Linked DNA regions of Homo sapiens: regions 1, 2 and 4 are each linked to region 3. The links come from fine-mapping of genetic effects on gene expression. A gene starts in region 3. Each other region holds a variant in brackets. All regions are shown on one strand. Distances are between the middles of the regions.

Region 1 (5,148 bases), 92 kb before region 3:
AGCATCTGCCTTTTTTTTTTTTTTTTTTGAGACGAAGTCTCACTCTGTCGCCCAGGCTGGAGTGCAGTGGCACGATCTCAGTTCACTGCAACCTCTGCATCCCGGGTTCAAGCGATTCTCCTGCCTCAGCCTTCCAAGTAGCTGGGATTACAGGTGTCTGCCATGACGCCTGGCTAATTTTTGTATTTTTAGTAGAGAGGGGGTTTCACTATGGTGGCCAGGCTAGTCTTGAACTCCTGACATCAGGTGATTCACCCGCCTCGGCCTCCCAAAGTTCTGAGATTACAGGCATGAGCCACCGCGCCCGGTGGCATTTGCCTTTTATTGCAGCCTTTGACTGACTGCCAGCTTTCACTAGGGCTCACCCTGCCTTATGTGCCTCGTTAAGGTTTAACCAAGGTCACTGACACCTGACTTGAGTTTTATCTTCTTTAGACCCTTTCTCAGATGGGTCTGGTGGACAATGGGGTAGGGAGGCATCAAACCAAGGCACCTGGAAACAGCCTTTGCATAACAGTTTAACATTCTTCTGCCTCACAGCCTTTCAGCCACTTGGTTGGATCACCCTGGGAGGAATCTCATCCCTCACCCAGCTCCCAGCCTCAGCCGCCCATGCCAGGTAGCAACTCTCTCCCTCACCCACAGCCCCCTCTGCCTCCTTTGTGGCTTAAGGCCACTGTCCTTTGAGATGTGTGTGAACTGCTTACACATCCAGAGTTTCAACTGATACAGAATTGTACCCATACTGGAGAATTTTGGTTGAGAATCTTTCGAGTTGAACTCCGTTAAGCAAACCTAATCCCCTGATCCATTTGTCCATACAACACAGATGAATTATTTCTAATTTTTTCCAATCTACTTTCATTGAAATGATTTTCAAATGGATCAATTCTTTTCCATATACATTCTATCAAAAAGATCTGTTGCCACTGAAATCTTATTTCTCTGCATTAAATTGTGCACATCACAGTTTCTCCCTTTTGTGACTGTGATTCCTGCCCGCCCAGCCTGGACTTCCTAATGTGGCACATTTAACAACAGCTGACCCTCAAACAACATGGGCTCGAATGGTGGGGCTCCACTTCCATGTGGATTTTCTATCGCCTCTGCCACCCTAAGACAGCAAGACCAACCCCTCCTCCTCCTCCTCTTCAGCCTACTCAATGTGAACACGATGAAGACCTTTATGACGATCCACTTCCACTTAACGAACACTAAATATATTTTCTCTTCCTTATACATATTTTTAAATGTTATTAAAAATTTTTTTCTTAATATTAGAGATGGGGTCTTGCTATGCTGCCTAGGCTGGTCTTGAACCCCTGGGCTCAAACAGTCTCCTGCCCTCAGCCTCCCAAAGTGCTAGGATTACAGGTGTGAGCCACCGCACCTGGCCACTTCCTTATCATTTTCTTAATAACATTTTATTTTCTCTCTCCTTATTGTAATACAGTATATAATACATTTATAACATACAAAATCCATCTTAATCGACTGTTTATGTTATTGGTAAGGCTTCTGGTTAACAGTAGGCTATTAGTAGTTAAGTTGTGGGGGAGTCAAAAGTTATCCACAGGGCTGGGTGTGGTCGTGCATGCCTGTAATTCCAGTACTCTGGGAGGCTGAAGCCGGCAGACTGCTTGAGCTCAGGAGTTTGAGACCAGCCTAGGCAACATGGCAAAAGCCTGTCTCTACAAAAATTACAAAAAAAAATTAGCTGGGAGTGGTGGTGTGTGCCTGTAGTCCTAGCTACTTGAGAGGCTGAGGTGGGAGGATGGCTTGAGCCCAGGAGGTCAAAGCTGCAGTGAGCCATGTTTGTGCCACTGCACTCCAGCCTGGGGGACAGAGCAAGATCCTGTCTCAAAAAAAAAAAAAAAAAAGTTATATGCAGATTTTTGACTGTGTGGGGGTCAGAGTCTCCCACGTAGTTCAAGAGTTCACTATACTGTTGTAAAGACTGGACTCTTGTGTTAGTCAAATTTTCCATATGCAGTTTTAATTGATACTAGTGATAACCATCTGCAATATTTCTTTTCTTTTCTTTTTTTTTTTTT[G/TG]AGATGGAGTCTTACTCTGTTGCCCAGGCTGGAGTGCAGTGGCACGATCTCCGCTCACTGCAACCTCTGCCTCCCGGGTTCAAGAGAGTCTCCCACCTCAGCCTCCCGAGTAGCTGGGATTACAGGTGAGCGCCACCATGCCTGGCTAATTTTTGTATTTTTAGGAGAGACTAGGTTTCGCCACATTGGCTAGACTGGTCTCAAATGCCTGACCTCAGATGATCTACCTGCCTGAGCTTCCCAAAGTGCTGGGATTACAGGCATCAGTCACCCAACATTTCTTATGAAACAGATAAAAGGCTGAATGTGGCTGGGTGCGGTGTCTCACGCCTGTAATCCCAGCACTTTAGGAGGCCAAGGTGGGGAAATCACTTGAGCTCAGGAGTTCAAGACTAGCCTGAGCAACATAGTTAAACTCTGCCTCTACAAAAAATACAAATTAAAATTAAATTTTTATTTAATTGGGTGCCTAACTCTGCATGAAAAGCCGTGACTCTGGTGGCCCGGGGTGCTGAGAGACAGGAGGCTAACTGACGCAACCACTTTGCTTAAAGTCCTCTCCAAATCCTCTTTTTTTCCCTTCATTGGCAGTGCTTTGAACTATGGGACCAGGCAGAAAATTCAGGGCCTGGCTAACTACAGACAAAGTGGACAGTTGACTCCATGGCACAGTCGCCATTTCCCCAACCTCTTTCCTCAGAGATTCTTAGCATCTGAGCATGTCACTTAAAAAGTCTTGGAAACGCTACCAATCCAAGGACTTTGGTGGAGCTTCGGGAAAGGGCTGTATTTCTAACCTCTGGGTGGTTATAAATCCATCATTAACAAAGCTAGAAGACCAGGCCTGGTGTGGTGGCTCACGCCTGTAATCCCAGCATTTTGAGAGGCCACGGTGGGAGGATCACTTGGACTCAGGAGTTTGAGACCTGCCCGGGCAACACAGTGAGACCCCGTTCTCCACAAAAAGGACACAACAACCAGAACAACAACAACAAACCCCAGAAGACTATAAAGAAAGGAGGGGAATTCCATCCAGTTTTCTTGCACAGCTGGATCTAAACACACCAGGCTGATTATTTTCTAACTCAGTTTAGAAATGTGCAGATCCAGGGTCACAGCTCGATGGGGAGGTGAGGTGTAAACCTGCGTCTCACAGATGGAAGATGCTTTTCCGATCCAGCCTAAGTCCCTCTGCACTCACATGGGGTTTTTTTCAACCCCAAAGACCAAGGTTTTGCAACCCTTTAAATAACTAAAGGACACCTGCACTTTAACTTGGCACCTGCCTGCAGGCTGAGGCTGTGGAAGGAGAGGAGGGATGTGGTCTAGGACAGGCCTTCTGCCTCCAGGCCCTGACACTCTCACTGCCTAGCGTTAAAGTGACCTGTGACTAAGAACAAAACTACACCTTGCAGGTACTTATGTTTCTGATAACTCAGAACAGATTCAAGGTTATCCCTATAATAGCATCATTTACTCCCCTGTATTCCAGCGTGATTCCTTGAGTGCAGGAGGGGAGTTGAGTTACAGCTAAGGTACTAGGAAGTAGGCCACCCAACAAGAAGGTCTACAAGGGAATGTCACCAGACATTCATGTCCTAGAAAAAAAAGGCGGAGACTCAAGTTTAGAGCAATCCCCTCACTGTCCAGATGAGGGAATGGGCCCTGGTGAAGGCCTCTGAGTAGCACACTGTCACACAACTGAGGAGGTGGAGCTGAGACTAGCCTCAGGGTTCTCTGCTTCAAATCTAAAGTCCTTTCCGTCAGGGTAGGGAGAGTTGGCCATAGGGTTTTAAGAACGAGGCATGTTGGGAAATATTACCTCTGGAGAGGAAGCACCACTGGTGTAGGAAGAGGCCTACACTTTAACTAAAGCAGGGTTAGTAACACCAGCATCTACTACCTCTGGTGTTTCTGTTTTATTTTGGCATAGCTCAAGAAATAGCTCTGGGCTGGGCACGGTGGCTCACACCTGTAATACCAGCATTGTGGGAGGCCATGGTGGGAGGATCACTTTAGCCCAGGAGTTTGAGATCAGCCTGGACAACACAGGGAGACCCCGTCTCTATTAAAAACTTTTTTTTTTTAATTAGCTGGGCATGGTGGTGCATGCCTCTAATCCCAGCTACGTGGGAGGTTGAGGCAGGAGGATCGCTTGAGCCCAGGAGGTTGAGGCTGCAGTGAGCCATGATCATGCCACTACACTCCAGCCTGGCCAACAGAGTGAGACCCTGTCTAAACAAAAAACAAAAATGAGTAAGTTGGTGTCTATTATGCGAGTGGGAAATCACATGATGACCTGGCTTTTCCATCCTCGAGACCATGGCAAGGGCACACTGGCCATGGGCTATGCAGAGTCCACTAGGGGGTGGCCAGCAGCTCCCATCTCTGCCGGGTGCCATCACCGTTTCCTTTGAACCTCTCGAGCACTGTGCACTACGACTGGCACTTTCCATACTGCCAACTGGAAACCAACAGTCTCTCTTTAACCTCTGCAGCACCTACTCTTGCATATGATAATAAATAATAGTTTGCATTTATTGAGTCATTACTATGGACAGCCATGGTGCTTTACATGTCTTCTCATATACGGTAGGTAGGTACTATCTATCATTAACGCCATTTGACAGATGAGGACATCAAGGCTCAGAAGATTACATAACCTGATCAAGATTCGCATGGCCAGAAAGAGGCAGAGCTGGCCCACGACACCTAGGAAGTCTGCGCTCTTGCTCGTGTGCTGTGCTACTGACTGACTAGCACAGAAGAGTTACATGGCAGAAAGAACAGAAATACTACCAGCTATTACCAAATACTCATTTATGAACCTTCTACACTGTCCCAGCAATTTCTCCTTAAGTGCCCCATAGTCCGGGCTAACTTGTAGCCTGAAACAATGGACACTTTTTTTTCCTAGGAACTCTGTTATAACTATCTGGAGTTCTGCTTTCCATTTGGCACTGGGCCTACAGCACTGGTTGTAAGATGCTGAATCTGCAGATGACCTTTTAAATGGAAAATAAAGGGTAAAAGGTAAGAAGGACAGAAAAAACACGGACAGCTAGAAAAGACTAATATCCCCAGCTTCTTTCCT
Region 2 (5,148 bases), 110 kb before region 3:
ACATTTTATAAGTTTTTTTTTGTATTTTAATATATAAATACAGAAACCTATCTTGCATGGGCTGATGCCACGTGTGAACATCAATGGCTAAAATGTTCTCAAACATAGTGCCTGAAAACAGGGGTAGCTGTACATATTTCTTAGTAAGTCTTTTTTTGTTTAAGTTTTCTGAAAAAAAAAATCCACGAGGGCCTAAGAATAATGTTCAGGCATTTTTGCAGGACACTTGTGATTGTTAAATCCTCTGAACTGACCGGAACCAGGAGGAAAGAAGGGAAAAGAGATGGGATCAGTAGGAAGAAAGTTCTCAATGGGTTGTTTTTTGGCAATGAAGTCAAGATATTAGGGTCTCAAGGGGAGAAAAGAGCAAAAAACCAGCCAGAAAAATAGAGGGAAAAAACCAAACAAACCCAAAGTAGAGAAGTTGGTGGTGGAGAGGGCCAGTTGGGGCAGGGGAAGAGACCGTGTGCTCGCCCGCCGTCAGAAGGCTGGCAGCGAGGCCTTAGCTGTGTTCGTCTGTCACTGAGTGGGTTATGGCTGGGCAGCAAACAGCAAGCTGTAAACATCACGAGGGAAAACACCAGTCGACACTAGACTTTTTTTTTATATAATTTTTTTTTGTAAACACTTTAAAGACAGACCCACAATGCCTTTCAAAGATGAAAAAGAAAATGCCCTTTCCCTCCTGGGCTGAGGGGTGAGGGGAAGGATAGCAGTTGATTCATTCTTCTCTCAAACTTGCTCTCATCCAATTTGGTGTCCTCAGGGAGGAAGGGAGAACCATGATCTGGAAGTCAGTGCAGAAGGGGTGCCCTGTTCCCGCTGGTGTCCCAAGCTCAGCTCTGCCCCAGGGTCCGGTGAGCCTCCTCCCTGGAGCAGGGGCGCTCTGTCCCTGTGTGGACCGTAATAAATAAGTCGTGCTCCATCGGGCCGAGGGCTGTCTGCTCATCCCAGGGCAGCTGCATCCCAAGAGGGCAGGCGGGGCTGGGGCGTCTACACAGGACCCCAGAAGCCAAACAGCACACGGGGAATTTGCAGCCATGTGCCTGGGCAGGTTCTACTCCCCTGCCTCACTCTCCCCCCTGGCTCTTTCTTCTCCCCTTGTCATCAGTTTTTGAGGTGGAGGTAAAAAGAGCAAATGTCCCTGATTTGTCTGACATCATCAGCTGTTCTGGGAGTTTACTTGGAATAAATAAAATAAACCTAACAAAAGAAAACGAAAGCAAGAGAGAGAGAAAGGGAGGGGGGAAGAAAAAGGTCCCAAAACCTTTGGCTGTGAGATGGAGTTGGGCTTTTGGTTTTTATGGGGGTTTTGTCTACTTGTTTGCCAGAAAAAGGAAAATGCCAGCCCAGAACTTGGAGGGGACAGGTGAGATGGGGGTCAGGGGTGGATGGTTGGCAGCAAGTGGGGTACCCCTGGGGGAGAAATGGGGAGGCCAGACCCAGCGGTAAGCCAGGGGGATGTGTGGAGTCAGCACCCAGTGCTGTGGGATAGAGGGATCGAGTCTGGCCTGGAGGCCTCAGATTCATCTGGAAGCGGCATGGGAAGAAGCAGTGGTCAAATGATCGCTGACCAGCACTTTGCAGGGAACAATGCACTGCCCATGGCTGTTTAGTAAGTGCAATGTCCTTATGGCAACAGGGAGTGAGATTATCCCCGTTACCATAGAAGAGGCGGAGACTCAGAGGTGAGCGAGGATGAGGCCAAGCCAGGCACAAACCCACCGCTCAGGCTCCTTTTCCTGCCCGTGCACATTCCCAGGGGATATTCCTGAACTTTCTTTAGGAATGTAGATTGTACTGGTCTCTTCCCCAACTGATCCTAACTCTTCTGAGCCTGTTCTTCATAACTGTCCATGTTGGTTTGTATCTCTTGTCCTTCCCAGGGAAAATCATTTCCGGATGACTAACTGCTCACTGATGAGGTGCTCCTTCCCTCTGCTCCTGCTTTCTTCTCAGTGGCATAAGGGCAGCCCGGCTCCCTAAACTGCAGGCCCCCAAAGTGACCTGACCCCAAGCCTTGAGCCCGGAGCACCCCCAAACGCGGGCTCACCTTTGAGAGGAGTCAGCAAGCAAGCCCGCAGGTCAGTCCGCAGGGTGTTCCGGACAAGATCTGTTCACTTCAAACCACGAGTCTATGCAGCTGGGAGGAGGGGGCCGCAAGGGAAACCACGTTACCTGCTGCCCAGGCTGCTTTGAAGGGGCTCTTTCAGAGGGCCAGATTCCTGAGCAGGAGCTTCCTAAGTCTCTTCTGAAAGGACCCCAGGGAAACACAGTCATGTCCCCAGATATCCCTACTTTCTGAAGCACGAAGAAGGGTGAACACCAAGACTAGTCTTGGCCCAGGTGGAGGCAGCAGTACCGGCTCAGGGGGATCTGGTGCTGCAGGAAGGGGCAGAGTGGCTTTCAGAAGGACCAAAGCTTTCTGTGCAGAGCCCAGGAGAATGGCAGCAGCCACCAGTGAGAAGGTGAGAGCGGTGGACCCCTCAGGGCAGCTAGTCAGCTGTCTC[C/T]AAGACTCCCAAGGGCAGGGAAGTGGGAACAATGGCATGGCAGGAGGGCCACGGCTCTGGGTGCCACAGTCCTGAAAGAGCTCCTTCCTGGGTCAAAAGAACAGCTGTGAAGCTCCCTCCCAGTGGGTGACCTCTTAGGAGAGCCCCAAGCTCTACCCGGCTCAGCCATGATCAGCTGATCAGCAGCATCTAGTCCTTCCTGCAAGAGGCGGGAGGGGAGCCAGACAGTGAAGCCCTGCTCTCCAGTGTTTACAGAGAAAGGCTCTCTGCATCAAAGAGGGAACAGAGATTGCCCCAAGACAGCTTCCTGATTTGTAAACCAACATCTGGGCATTTTCAAAGACAGGAACCAGACAGATAATTGGCATAATTCTCCCCGAGGGCCAAAGATTTCCTTTTCTGGTTCTGGTTAGTGCCGCCCTGGGACACAAGCAAGGCTCCGTGCTGGGAGCTAGACCAAGAATCTCTCCCAGGCCAGCCTTAAGCCTCCTCTGCACCAGCCACACTGCGTGCCATGCCCGGTTGTCACCCTGTGCAGCAGTGGCCCTGAGAGTCAGGCTTTGAAAGGCCTGAGTGTCAGGAAGAAGCTCTGGGCTCGAGGATTCAACAGGTGCTGGCCCCAGGCAGCACAGTGTCCTGTCTTGGGCAAGAGGGTGCCTTCCTTCCAGCTGGAAACAAGGACGAGGCTCACACTGGAGTCCCAAGGCATATCTGGGCCCTGCTACTTTTAACTGTGCCCAGTGCTGTGGCCCCACAGGAAATGGCTCTTCCTGCCTCCCGGCCCTCTAGGGAGAAGGCCAGTGCAAGGCAGTGGGTACACCCTCCGCCTGGCCTTCCTCGCACAGATTGATGTTCTACCCCTGTGGAGCAGAGGGACCCGTAGAGGAAGAAGAGGCAGGGAGACAGACGGAGAACCAACCTTCCCAGTGGGATCCGAAGCTCCTCCAACCTGTGAGGCTCTACGGGTCTCCCCATCAGCTCCCACCACCTGAGCCCTCAAACCAGAGCACACCTCTGGCAACTCCACTCTGCTCTGCACTTGGGATGCTCGCACCTTCCCGCCGGCACAGTGGACACCTGTCTGATGGCCTCTGCCCTTACCCGCTCGGAGCCAGAGGTCGGGGGAGAGGTCATCCCATAACCAAAGGAGACAGAATGGCTGGAGATGGGGGTCCGCCCCTCTGGGAGGTGGGGTGCACTAAGCTACCTTGCCAACCCCTCCTACCTTTTGTGATAGATGCACAGGCAGGGCAGCCTGGCTATCGTGTCCCCCTGCAGCAGCTCCTCCAGGCAGATCACACACTCACCCGCGTCTTTAGTCAGCACATCATCTGCAAGGGGGACAGGGGAGAGTGCAGGAGGGTTAGTCACCAGTGGACAGGTGGCATGGGGCAAGCAAGGGCCTAGGAACTAGGGGACTGCTTAGCTGCCCCAAGCTGTGCCCGGCTCTGCAGGGGACACAGAACCCCAAGAGGGACGTTGACCTTAAGACTTTCACCGTGGAGATAATGCGTGGACATCACATGTTAATTACCCAAAGACAAAATGGGATTAATCTCAACATGTGATTAACCAAAAGCCTAGGTGACAGCGGACGAAAAAGGCTTGGAGAAGGGTAGACAGGAAGCAGGGGCAGCATGAGGCAAGCTGTTTCCCTCCACAGATGCTTTCCTAAACACACACGTAGCCAGTGTGCTGATGTCTGGTTTGGAAAAATATGGTAATGGGTAGAGTGGTAGGAGGCAAGAATGAGAGGAAGAAACAGGTCCCCAAGAAAATCCTTGTGCACGGAGGTTCACAGCAGCATTGTTCACAACAGCCCAAAGGTGGAAACAACCCAGTGTCTACAAACTGCGCAACGGATAAACAAAAGATGATGTATCCACACAATGGAATATTACTAAGCCAAGAAAAGGAAGAACCACCACATGCTAAAACATGGATAAACGTCAAAAATACTACACAAAGTAAAAGAAACCACCTATTGTATGAACCCATTTATATGAAATGTCCAGAATAGATACATCCATAGAGAGGGAAAGGAGATCAGTATTGGGGACAGAGGGATATGGGGAGTGACTGCTTAATGGGTAGGGGGTTTTCTCCCCCCCCACCACCCCGCTTTTATTTGAGATGGAGTCTCACTCTGTCACCCAGACTGGAGTGCAGTGGCACTATCTCGGCTCACTGCAACCCCCGCCTCCTGGGTTCAAGTGATTTTCCTGTCTCAGCCTCCCGAGTAGCTAGGATTACAGGCGCCCACCACCACGCCTGGCTAGTTTTTGTATTTTTAGTAGAGACGGGGTTTCACCATGTTGGCCGGGCTGGTCTCGAACTCCTGACCTCGTGATCCACCCACCTTGGCCTCCCAAAGTGCTGGGATTACAGGTGTGAGCCACCACGCCTGACCCGTTTTTTCCCCTTTTAAAAACTTTATTTTATTGTGGTAAGACTAACATATGCTCTATCCTCTTAACAAATCTTCAAGTGTACAACATAGTATTGTCAACTGTAGGCACTATGTTGTATGGCAGATGTCTAGAACTTACTCATCGTGCATAACTAAAATGTTATACCCATTAATCCACCACTCCCCTTCCCCCCGCCCAGCCCCTGGCCACCACTAGTCTACTCTCTG
Region 3 (5,148 bases):
CTCACCCAAAAGAATCTTAAGATGTAACTTCATCACTCAACTTGCCAATTAGCAAATAGCGGCCCCCACATCCCTTTTGGCCAATTTTCTAGATGCCTGACCTAGCAGACAGACCTGTTTTCCTCCTGCCAGGCCTTTTTTGCCCTCCCGCTAGGAGCCTGGGAAATCCCCCTCCAACCTTTTGCTGGCCTGTCACCAGAAGTTCATAAAATGAATTCATCCAGATTCTCTGAATCCTCCTTTTCCCCAGTCATGTGCCAACAGCCAGGCAATAATGCCCCACCGTGACAGGCTCCCTGTTACAAAAAGATGCAGATTCACGGGAAGACCAAGCACTTAGCATGGAGCAGAAGAAAAAAAGATGGAGGGAGGCGAGAGTCGCGGAGCCAAGCCTGCTGCATGCAGTACGGGTGACCACAGCCCGGGTCCTGCAAAGCCCCCGCGAGACTCGCCGGCTGGGCCCTCCGTACAGCAGCCACACCTGTCTATGCCAGCCGCCTGCCGGCTGCTCCATTTTAAACATTTCAAACAGATCTCCAGCAGGGTGGCAAAACTGGGCACCTCTCTCTCCCAGCAAGAGTGAGAGCCCTAATCCAGGCATCACTTGCCCCTGATTTTATTTCATTTTCACACACTCTGTTTAGGAGACACTGCTTGCTCCAACTGGCTCCATCTCTCCGTTACCGGTGAGGCAGGCACAGTGCTGCAGTGGCAGAATGGAAGTACCCAGGCTGACTTGCTCTCAGCCAGACACGACCTCTTCTCTGAGGAGGGTGATGCCAATAAATGGAACTCCAATAGGTAGGCTTCGCTCTGCCCTTCCACAAGTGAACACACGCCGTGAGTCCCTAAATCGCCAGGCTCCGCAGCCTCGCAGAAAGCCTAGTTTCCAGACGGTAGGTATCCCATTTATCCCTTGGCATCGGGAACCAAAGGGAATGCAGACAGATCCCGGTCGTGCACTACATTCCCAAACCTTGGCACGCACGCGAAGGCTTGGGGCGCCCCGGCGCGCCCTCCCTCCGAGGCCTCCACCACCCGCGGACTCACCACTATGCGAGCTGAACCACCTGGGTGCGATGTGCAGAGGTAGAGCATCCGCCAGCGAGGCTCGGGAGCCCAGGTACAGCATCCCGTCTCTATGGTGACCGCCGCCCGTCTCCTGGTAACCATTGCCATGGGCATAGGTGGAGTCGGACGCAGACCCTCCGCCGCCGGGCGCCCTCTCGGAGTCGCCGGTGCCCCGGGAGGCGGGGGTGTAGAGGCCAAAGGGCACCCCCCCGGCCGTGCTGGGGTCCATGCCCATGCCTGCCACCGAGCTGACCGAGCGGCTGCGCAGCCCCATGGCCCCGCCGCCCGTCCGGTAGTGCCCGAAATGGGGCGCCCCTCCCGGCGGCGGCACGGCGCTGTCATCGGTGGAGACCCCCGGGAAGGGGCCCCGGGAGCGGGCCGCCGTGCTCTGCTTGCCCCCCATGCTCGCCCGGGCCCCGGTGGGGCGGGAACCTGGAGGCCGAGACCCTCCCCCACTTCTCAGCAGCAGGGGGAGGGCTGGGCGAGCATAAAGGGGGAGGGAGTCAAAAAGGAGACCCGGAGGGAGAAAAGGAAAAAAAGCAAAAGGAAAAAAGGAAAAAACCCGCGGGGCGGAAGAGGCAGGCGGGCGGGCGGGGATCCCAAACTCAGAATTTCAAACGATCCAAGGCAAACGCATGTTTCCCCTCAAGGTCCAAAGAGGCGCAGTCCGGCGCGGGCTCCGCGCGCCACAGGCCGCCCCCGGGCTCCGAAAGCCGGGGGAGCCGCAGGGAAGGAGGGAGGGAGGCGGCGGCGAGCGGCGGGCGGGCGCGGGGAGGCGCCGGAGGAGGCCGCCCGCCCCGCGGGAGGAGGCGGAGGAGGGCCGGGGGCGCCGGGCGCGTCCCCCGCCTCAGGACGCCGCGACCATGGACGGCGGCCCGGACCCCTCCAGGCCTCGGGCGGGCCGCGGCGCTGGGCGGCCAGGCGCAGCTCGGGAAGCCGCGGTCGCGTCGCGTCGCGCTCTCGCTTCAGCCGCCGCCGGCCCCGCCAGCCGCGCCGCCCCGCTCGGTCCCGGGCTGCGCTCGCCGGCGCTCCTCGCCGCCGTGGAGACAATGGAGGGCGGCAGAGCGCAGGCGCGGCCCGCGCCCCCTCCCCCTCCCCCCGCCGGGTTAACCCTTTCGCGGTCCCTGCGGCGCCTGGGCCGCTGACGCCCCAGCAGTCCCCACCCACCGCCCGCCCCCGGCCGGCCTGTGACCTGGGCGGCCTGACCACTGGGCGTTAGCCACAGAAACCAGATGTCTTTCAAAAGCAAACACTTCTTAAGTCCCCGAAAGTGGCAAATTATTCAGGGGGAACCAAGTATGGGGGAGGGGCAGCAATGGTTCGAGGGGGTGGGAAGGAAACACCGGGAAGAAGGAGATTTACTCCTTACGCCTACCTGGCTCTGAGGGTCACCGGTCGAGCTCCCCTCCTGGCACAAATTTGCCCCCACAGCACCCTCTGGTGGACGTGATGTCCATTCTTTCGGGGGTTCCCCATCCAAGCACCCCTCACGTCCGGAATCTCAACATTTGGCGGGGTTTAGTTATTTGGGGGTAAACAGCGCCATGGGGACACTTGTGAATCCGGCGTTTTGCTGACACTAGATCATAACTTCCTATTTTGGGCTTAAGCAAATGAGTAGATTCCTTAGCTAAAATGTAATTTTCAGAATCAATAGATGTACCATAAAAAGTGAATAGATATGGGTATGGAAATAGAACAACGCAGCTAGAAGTGATTATAGAAACCTTCTGTCCAAGGCTGGAGCCCTGTTTTGTTTACCATGTGCTGTGTTTCGGCCCTCACCACGGGCCAAGGACACGGTGGGTACTCAATAGGTGTATTGTTGACCAAGCCTGAATCATTTGCAAGGGAGTGTTCCTTTGCTACCTCAAGCCGTCTTTCTCCTATATTCACATTCATTTATTGAACAACTGTTTTTTTTGTTTTGTTTTGTTTTTGTTTTTGAGACGTAATCTCGCCCTGTCACCCAGGCTGGAGTGGTGTGGCGTAACCTCGGCTCACCGCAACCTCCGCCTCCCGGATTCAAGTGATTCTCCTGCCTCAGCCTCCCGAGTAGCTGGGATTACAGGCACATGCCACACTGCACCTGGCTAATTTTTTGTATTTTTAGTAGAGGCGGGGTTTCACCGTATTGGCCAGGCTGGTCTTGAACTCCTGACCTCAGGTAATCCACCTGCCTTGGCCTCCCAAAGTGTTAGGATTACAGGCATGAGCCACCGCGCCCGCCCTGTTTTTCTTTTTCTTTTTTTTCTTTTCTTTTTTTTTTTTTTTGAGACGGAGCCTTGCTCCTCCCAGGCTGGACAACCTCCGCCTTCCAGGTTCAAGTGATTCTTCTGCCTCAGCCTCCCGAGTAAAAGTCTGTTAAAAATTTCAAAATCAGGCCGGGCACGGTGGCTCATGCTTGTAATTCCAGCACTGTGGGAGGCTGGGGGTGGGGGGGTGGGGGGAGATGGGGCAGGGGATCACCTGAGGTTAGGAGTTTGCAACCAGCCTGACCAACATGGTGAAACCTCATTTCTACTAAAAAAAAATGAAAATAAAAAATAAATAAATTAGCCAGGTGTGGTAGCTCACGCCTGTGATCCCAGCTACTTGGGTAGCTGAGGCAGGAGAATGGCTTGAACCCGCGAGACAGAGGTTGCAATGGGCTGAGATCGCGTCACTGCACTCCAGACTGGGCAACAGAACGAGACTGTCTCAAAATATACATATGATATATATATATGTGTATATACATACATATATAGTAGAGATGGGAGTTTCCCCATGTTGTCCAGGCCGGTACTCCTGGCCTCAAGCAGTCCTCCCACTTCGGCTTCACAAAGTGCTGGGATTACATCATGAGCCACTGTGACTGCTGAACAACTATTTATCAAGTGCTAGGTGCTGGCTGTGAGTATCACACAGTCCCTGGCTTAGCTGACTTCCACCTATTAAATGACCCCAGATACTTCTAAACTGGGGGACCAAAACAGGATGTTCAGAAATATTAAAAGAAAACCAAAAAGAGCAAGGCTAGCCCGTCACAGGTATTGATTGTTCCATTGTGGCCAGCCTGGAAACAGGAGGAAACCTATTTGCAAGCATGAAATACCTGGAGGTGAGCAAACAGCCCTGTAGAAGTAAGAATTTTTGCAAGAGAAGTAAAAATAGGAAGAAACAAAATGTGCCAACATCTAATAAATTATCTGTAGGTGCCTATATGAGTATGTGTATACCTAAAGAGGAAAAACAAGAAAGCTTAAATTTAATCCCATTTCCTCCTAGAAGAAAGACTATGGTATCAGAAGAGTGGTTCAGTACTATACTAAAAAAAAAAAAGGTATTAGACCCCGTGGAAGATCCCTATTAGAGAGATAAATACATGATACCCATTGTAACTATCCAAACAGCTTTTGATTTATCCATTCACTGAACAGTTTTTTAGTGTATTTAACACAATATTTAGTATGTAATAAATTCCAGGCACTGTAGTAGGTTCTGGGATACAGTACTGAACCAGAACCAGACAGATGGAGTCCCTGTTCTCATAGAACATCAGAAGAAACACTTCCCACCCACTTGAATGGCTATGATCAAAGAGAAGGGCAATAGTAAGTATTGATGAGAGGTGGAGAAATTGGAACCCTTGTACCTTGCTGGTGGAAATGTAAAATGGTGCAGCTGCTTTGGAAAACAGCCTGACAGTTCCTCAAAAAGATTAAATGTGGAGTTACATGACCCAGCAATTCTGCTCCTACCTAGGTAGAGTTCCAAGAGAAAGCAAAACATATGTCTGCAGAAAAATGTGTACGTAAATGTTCATAGCAGCATTATTCAAAAGAGCTAAAAAGTGGAAACAACCCAAATGCTCATCAACTGATGAAGAGGTAAACCAAATGTGGTGTATCTATACAATGAAATATTATTCAGCCATGAAAAGGAATAAAGTACTGATTCATATTACAACATGGATGAATCTTGTAAAAGCATATTAACTAAAAGAAGCCAGCCATAAAAGACTATGTATTGTATGATTTCACTTATATGAAATGTCCAGAATAGGCAAATCCATTGAGACAGATTGATTAGTGG
Region 4 (5,148 bases), 54 kb before region 3:
ACTGGAAAGACAGAATGGATACACACAAATGAAGGAGTGGTTCTAAATTCTAGTAAGCCTGGGTGATACAGCGAGACTCCGCCTCAAAAATAAATAAATAAAAATAAATAAGTTCTAGTAAGCCAGTGTTGCCACTTTATTTAAACCTGAGAAACAGTTCCTTTAGAAAGCATTAAAATGGGAGCAATGGAAAGAGTCCAAATGACGTTCCCACACTTCTCAATTCACTCCCTGCATCAATGCAGCATGGGGTGATGCCTGGCCCTGCTTGTTGGGAGAGGAAAGCCATCTCTTTACAAACGAACGCCTGCCCACCCAGTCTGCCTGTTACAAAGGGCCGTCTTTCTGAATTTGTTCTAGAGAGCTGATATGATCACAGTAACAGTTTCATTAGGACACCCTGCTCCTTTAATTTCTGCTCTAAAACAAGACAGCTAGACAGGAGAAAAGACCAAGAAGAGAGTCAGATCCTCCTGTTTGGACTTGACCTGTAAGAAAGGCTAGAGACAAGAAGGGCTGGGATGGTCCCAGTGATGTGGGCAGTGAAGGCCAAAGCACCATTGCCATGGAGCAATTCCCACATTCCTAGAGAAGCCACGCTCCACGTGAATAGGTAAGGCCAATCTCCCAGGAGGATTAGTATCAGGGGAGAAATCAAGAAATGCTAACACAGAACTTAGCTTGAGAAAACAGCCAGGGGAGAACAAAGTGCCAGTATTACCTGATTGCTAAATTATTAAATTGCTGCTTAGGCTAAAAAGCAATGGTTCCTTAGGCCCTGAATTAAAGGCACCTGACACAGACCAGCATGAGGACTGAGAAGCCCACATAGTGACCTCCACTCTGACCATACCCAGCTTTCCCCCACTTCCCTGCAGACCCTATGGAGAAATCTGCCCAGAGAATCAGGCAGGAAAAGATGAGCCAGTGCCTGGCTTGTCCCTTGAGCCACCAAAGTCAACAAAGCAGACAGAACTGGCAGGGTGCCAGGGAGGCAAAGTGGCATCAGCTTCTCCCAGCAGGGCCACGCCTCACCACAAATGGACTTTTAGAACAAGAGTACCCTACCCTCACAACAAAGGTCACTGCATTTATTTTCCTTCTCCAAAGCAAAATGGCTGAAGCCAGGAACTGCACTTCTGGTCAACACAGTTAAGGTCCTTCCCACTCTGAAAGACAAAATGCACTTTGCTTGTTGAAACACAGCAGGATGAGGATTTTCCACATGGGCTTCTGCCTTTTTCACAGGAACCACGAAACCAGAGGAAACTAAGGGTCCTTGCTTAGGGCCTTGGGGGAGTACAAAGGGAATTGTCAACAAGGAAGGAAGAAATAATCTCAAATGGCATCAGTCCTATTCCCTGAAGGGGAAGACACATAGTTCATACGAAAAGTAAAGTTTTGACCATGGCTTGGGAAGACTCTGATCACCAAAGGGAATATGTAACAAAGAACTTGCGTGGCCACAATGAGCCAAAGCCAGCAGAGGTGACCTGAACAGGGAGTACAGGAGCCCAGGAACAACCTGGGAATACCCTAAAGGCTCTTTTCTAAAGTCTAGACTTTCTCCAAAATGTGATGTGTACACACCAAAGTACAAACTGAAAAGACATTTTCTGAGCTTGTGAGGAAATTACTACTTATGTGAGTCCACTCTGCTTATTTAATAGGTGGATGTGTTTTACAGCATGGGGCACATCTATCATGGGCATTAGGGAAGCTCACAAATAGCCCCTGATAGTGACAGCCACTGGACATTGGTGATTTTTTTTTTTTTTTTTTTTTTTGAGATGGAGTCTCGCTCTGTCACAGAAGGCTGGAGTGCAATGGTGTGATCTCGGCTCACCGCAACCTCCGCCTCCCAGGTTCAAGCGATTCTCCTGCCTCAGTCTCTTGAGTAGCTGGGACTATAGGCGTGTGCCACCAGGCCTGGCTAATTTTTGTATTTTTAGTAGAGACAGGGTTTCACCATGTTGGCCAGGCTAGTCTTGAACTCCTGACCTCAGGTGATCCACCTGCCTTGGCCTCCCAAAGTGCTGGGATTACAGGCATGAGCCACTGCACCCAGCCATTGGCGATTTTTATGTTTTTAGCTGGAGTCCTCAAGTTAGAGAACAAAAATGCTTTTCTGACCCTCTATTCCCACCTTATATGTATATTTAGATAATTGATGTTTAACTTTAAGGTTCTAGCCACCCACCTGAACCAGTTTTATTATGTGGGGTGGGAAGTGAGATAAAGCCCCCTAGATTTCCTCTGCGATCTATAAATAGAGCTTCAGGAAGGCAATCAGCCTACCTAGGGCAGGAATTTCAGTCCATTTGCTCAGGAGGCTCCTCCCTCACTTCCAATCCAGAGGCCCCATGGAGCTAAGTCAGAGGGCGCCGATTCACATCATG[T/A]CCCCAGTGGCAGCAAATGAAAAGGCTCAGATTCTCCTCATTTTCACATGGGTTGCCAGCCTTGCTTTAACTCTGTAAGTTTGTGTTCCACAGAGCAAAATCACAAAAGAGATCATGCAATGATTAAGAGTGCATTTTGTGAAATGCATCACAACAGTAAGCTGGACGGACAGACAGATCGATGGAGGGAAGGCTGTATAGACAGTCTGTGATAAAGCAATATAGACAATGTTGGCTGCACGGTTGAGGTGGTGGTTATATGGGTGTTCACTGAACAGTTCTCTCAATTTTACTGTCTGACACACCTGCCTGCTGGAAATGGAGGTGGCCTTGAAGAAGTGAGAATGGCAGTCATAGCCCTGAGGTCAGAGGACATGGTCTCACCTTAAACAAGCCTGCTGACCTGGAGGAGGACTTTCACATCCCCAAGCTTCTTTATTTAAAAGGGTAGTGGTCAAAATCAGGGACCTTTTTACAAACATCTTATGTTTGGACCCAACTATGAGTCTACTGACTCACAATGTGAGGCAGGTGGGGTAACATAACATTATCTTTTTCTTTTCTTTTTTTTTTTTTTGAGACAGGGTCTGGCTCTGTCACTCAGGCTGGAATGCAGTGGTGCCATGCTGGCTCACTGCAACCTCTGCCTCCTGGGCTCAAGCAATTTTCCCACCTCAGCCTCCCAAGCAGCTGAGACTACAGGTGCACGCCACCACACCCAGGTAATTTTTATGTATTTTTGGTAGAGATGGGGTTTCACCATGTTGCCCAAGTTGGTCTCGAACTTCTGGGTTCAAGCAATCCTCCAGCCTTGGCCTCCCAAAGTGCTGGAAAAACAGGCGTGAGCCACCACGCCCGGGCACATTCTCTATCTTGATAGGGTTTTGGGTTTTGCTGATGCATGTACTTGTCAAAACCCAGTGAACATGTACTTAAAATGTGTACATTTCTTTGTATGTAAACTTTCCACCAAGAGGAAAAGCTATAAAGAAATACTTAACACCAGTTAATGATGTACATATTGAAATATTTAAAGATAAGTATACAGATGTCTATAGTTTACTTTGAAATGTGTACAAAATAAGAGGTGGATAGATAAATAAAGGAGTGGATAGATGAATAGATTTGTGATGATTAAACAAACATAGTTTAAAAAAAGATGGGCTGTGTGCTGTGGCTCATGCCTGTAATCACAGCACTTCGGGAAGCTGAGGTGGGTGGATCATGAGGTCAGGAGTTCGAGACCAGCCTGACCAACACGGTGAAACCCCATATCTACTAAAAATACAAAAATTAGTTGGGCGTGGTGGCACATGCCTGTAATCCCAGCTACTCACAAGGCTGAGGCAGGAGAATCGCTTGAACCCGGGAGGTAGAGATTGCAGTGAGCCGAGATCATGCCACTGCACTCTAGCCTGGGAGACACAGCAAGACTCCGTCCCCCCCAAAAAAAAAAAGGGGAAGATGCAGGCTGGATGCGGTGGCTCATGCCTGTAATCCCAACACTTTGGGAGGCCAAGGCGGGCAGATCACTTGAGGTCAGGAGTTTGAGACCACCCTGGCCACCATGAGGAAACCCTTTCTCTACCAAAAATGTAAAAAATTAGCTGGGTGTGGTGGCACACACCTGTAATCCCAGCTACTCGAGATGCTGAGGCAGGAGAATTGCTTGAACCCGGGAGGCAGAGGCTGCAGTGAGCTGAGATTGTGCCACTGCACTCCAGACTAGGCGACAGAGTGAGACTCCGTCTCAGAAAAAAAAAAATAGATGTATTTGGAGGTGGGTAGTAGTGGAGGGGGTGGTCTGTCACCCGTACAGTGCAATCATAGCTCACTGCAGCCTTGAACTCCCAGGCTCAAGTGGGCCTACTGCCTCAGCCTCCTGAGTAACTGGGACTACAGGCATGTGCCACGACACCCAGGTTTTGTTTTTTTTTTTTTTCTTTTTGTAGCGACAAGGTCTCACCATGTTGCCCACACTGGTGTTAAACTCCTGAGCTCAAGCCATCCTCCTGCTTCAGCCTCCCAAAGTGCTAGGATTACAGGTGTGAGCCACTGTACCTGGCTACAAGTTTTTTGTTTTTTTTTGTTTTTTTTTTTTTTTTTTGAGACGGAGTCTTGCTCTGTCGCCCAGGCTGGAGTGCAGTGGCGCAATCTTGGCTCACTGCAAGCTCCACCTCCCGGGTTCATGTCATTCTCCTGCCTCAGCCTCCTGAGTAGCTGGGACTACAGGCGCCTGCCACCATGCCCAGCTAATTTTTCTGTATTTTTTTAGTAGAGACGGTGTTTCACCGTGTTAGCCAGGATGGTCTCGATCTCCTGACCTCGTGATCCGCCCGCCTTGGCCTCCCAAAGTGCTGGGATTACAGGCGTGAGCCACCGTGCCCGGCGGCTACAAGTATTTTTATTTTTTTTTTAATATCAGGAACACACGATCGATTGATTGATTGTTGAGACAAGGCCTGGCTCTGTTGCCCAGGCTGGAGTGCAGTGGCACAATCTCAGCTTACTGCAACCTCTGCCTCCCAGGCTCAAACCATCCTCTGATCTCAGTCTCCCAAGTAGCTGGGACTACAGGTGTGCACCACCACGCCCAGCTAATTTTTGTATTTTGGGTAGAGACAGGGTTTTGCCATGTTGCCCAGTATGGTCTCGAATTCCTGGGGTCAAGCAATCCTCCCGCCTCGACCTCACCAAGTGCCGGGATTACAGGAGTGAGCCACTGCATCTGGGCACAAGTATTTTAAAA

Direction of the effects. Alleles are on the strand shown, and positions count from the first base shown. SD is a standard deviation of normalised expression in the study named. Not every link is listed here.
For the expression in monocytes after LPS of the gene that starts at base 2,122 in region 3, allele TG in region 1 goes with a higher level than allele G (moderate effect, 0.54 SD a copy in Quach 2016).

What was found. PIP is the estimated chance that this variant, and not a neighbour inherited with it, causes the effect. A credible set is the group of variants that fine-mapping cannot tell apart.
Region 1: its variant is the best candidate, but not a certain one, in a credible set for the expression of ZNRF1 in monocytes after LPS (Quach 2016, PIP 0.82).
Region 2: its variant is the best candidate, but not a certain one, in a credible set for the expression of ZNRF1 in fibroblasts (GTEx, PIP 0.57).
Region 4: its variant is the best candidate, but not a certain one, in a credible set for the expression of ZNRF1 in whole blood (INTERVAL, PIP 0.76).

What each region holds. Positions count from the first base shown.
Region 1 is chr16:75,088,265-75,093,412 of GRCh38, reverse strand. The region is part of intron 1 of ZNRF1 (zinc and ring finger 1); the gene reads right to left. Among named protein-coding and RNA genes, the nearest start is that of LDHD, 26 kb to the left of the region's middle. RefSeq lists a silencer at 1-125 and an enhancer at 5,036-5,148. The variant G/TG (reference allele first, on the strand shown) is at 2,055.
Region 2 is chr16:75,103,477-75,108,624 of GRCh38, reverse strand. It overlaps ZNRF1 (zinc and ring finger 1), which reads right to left. Exons shown (of 5, transcript NM_032268.5): 3 at 3,736-3,841; 4 at 2,054-2,143; 5 at 1-892. The coding sequence ends at 2,086. Among named protein-coding and RNA genes, the nearest start is that of LDHD, 11 kb to the left of the region's middle. RefSeq lists an enhancer at 790-959. The variant C/T (reference allele first, on the strand shown) is at 2,511.
Region 3 is chr16:74,995,998-75,001,145 of GRCh38, reverse strand. It overlaps ZNRF1 (zinc and ring finger 1), which reads right to left and starts at 2,122. Exons shown (of 5, transcript NM_032268.5): 1 at 1,051-2,122. The coding sequence starts at 1,474. RefSeq lists an enhancer at 251-310 and silencers at 1,101-1,410, 1,811-2,330.
Region 4 is chr16:75,050,229-75,055,376 of GRCh38, reverse strand. All of the region lies in intron 1 of ZNRF1 (zinc and ring finger 1), which reads right to left. Among named protein-coding and RNA genes, the nearest start is that of ZNRF1, 54 kb to the right of the region's middle. The variant T/A (reference allele first, on the strand shown) is at 2,400.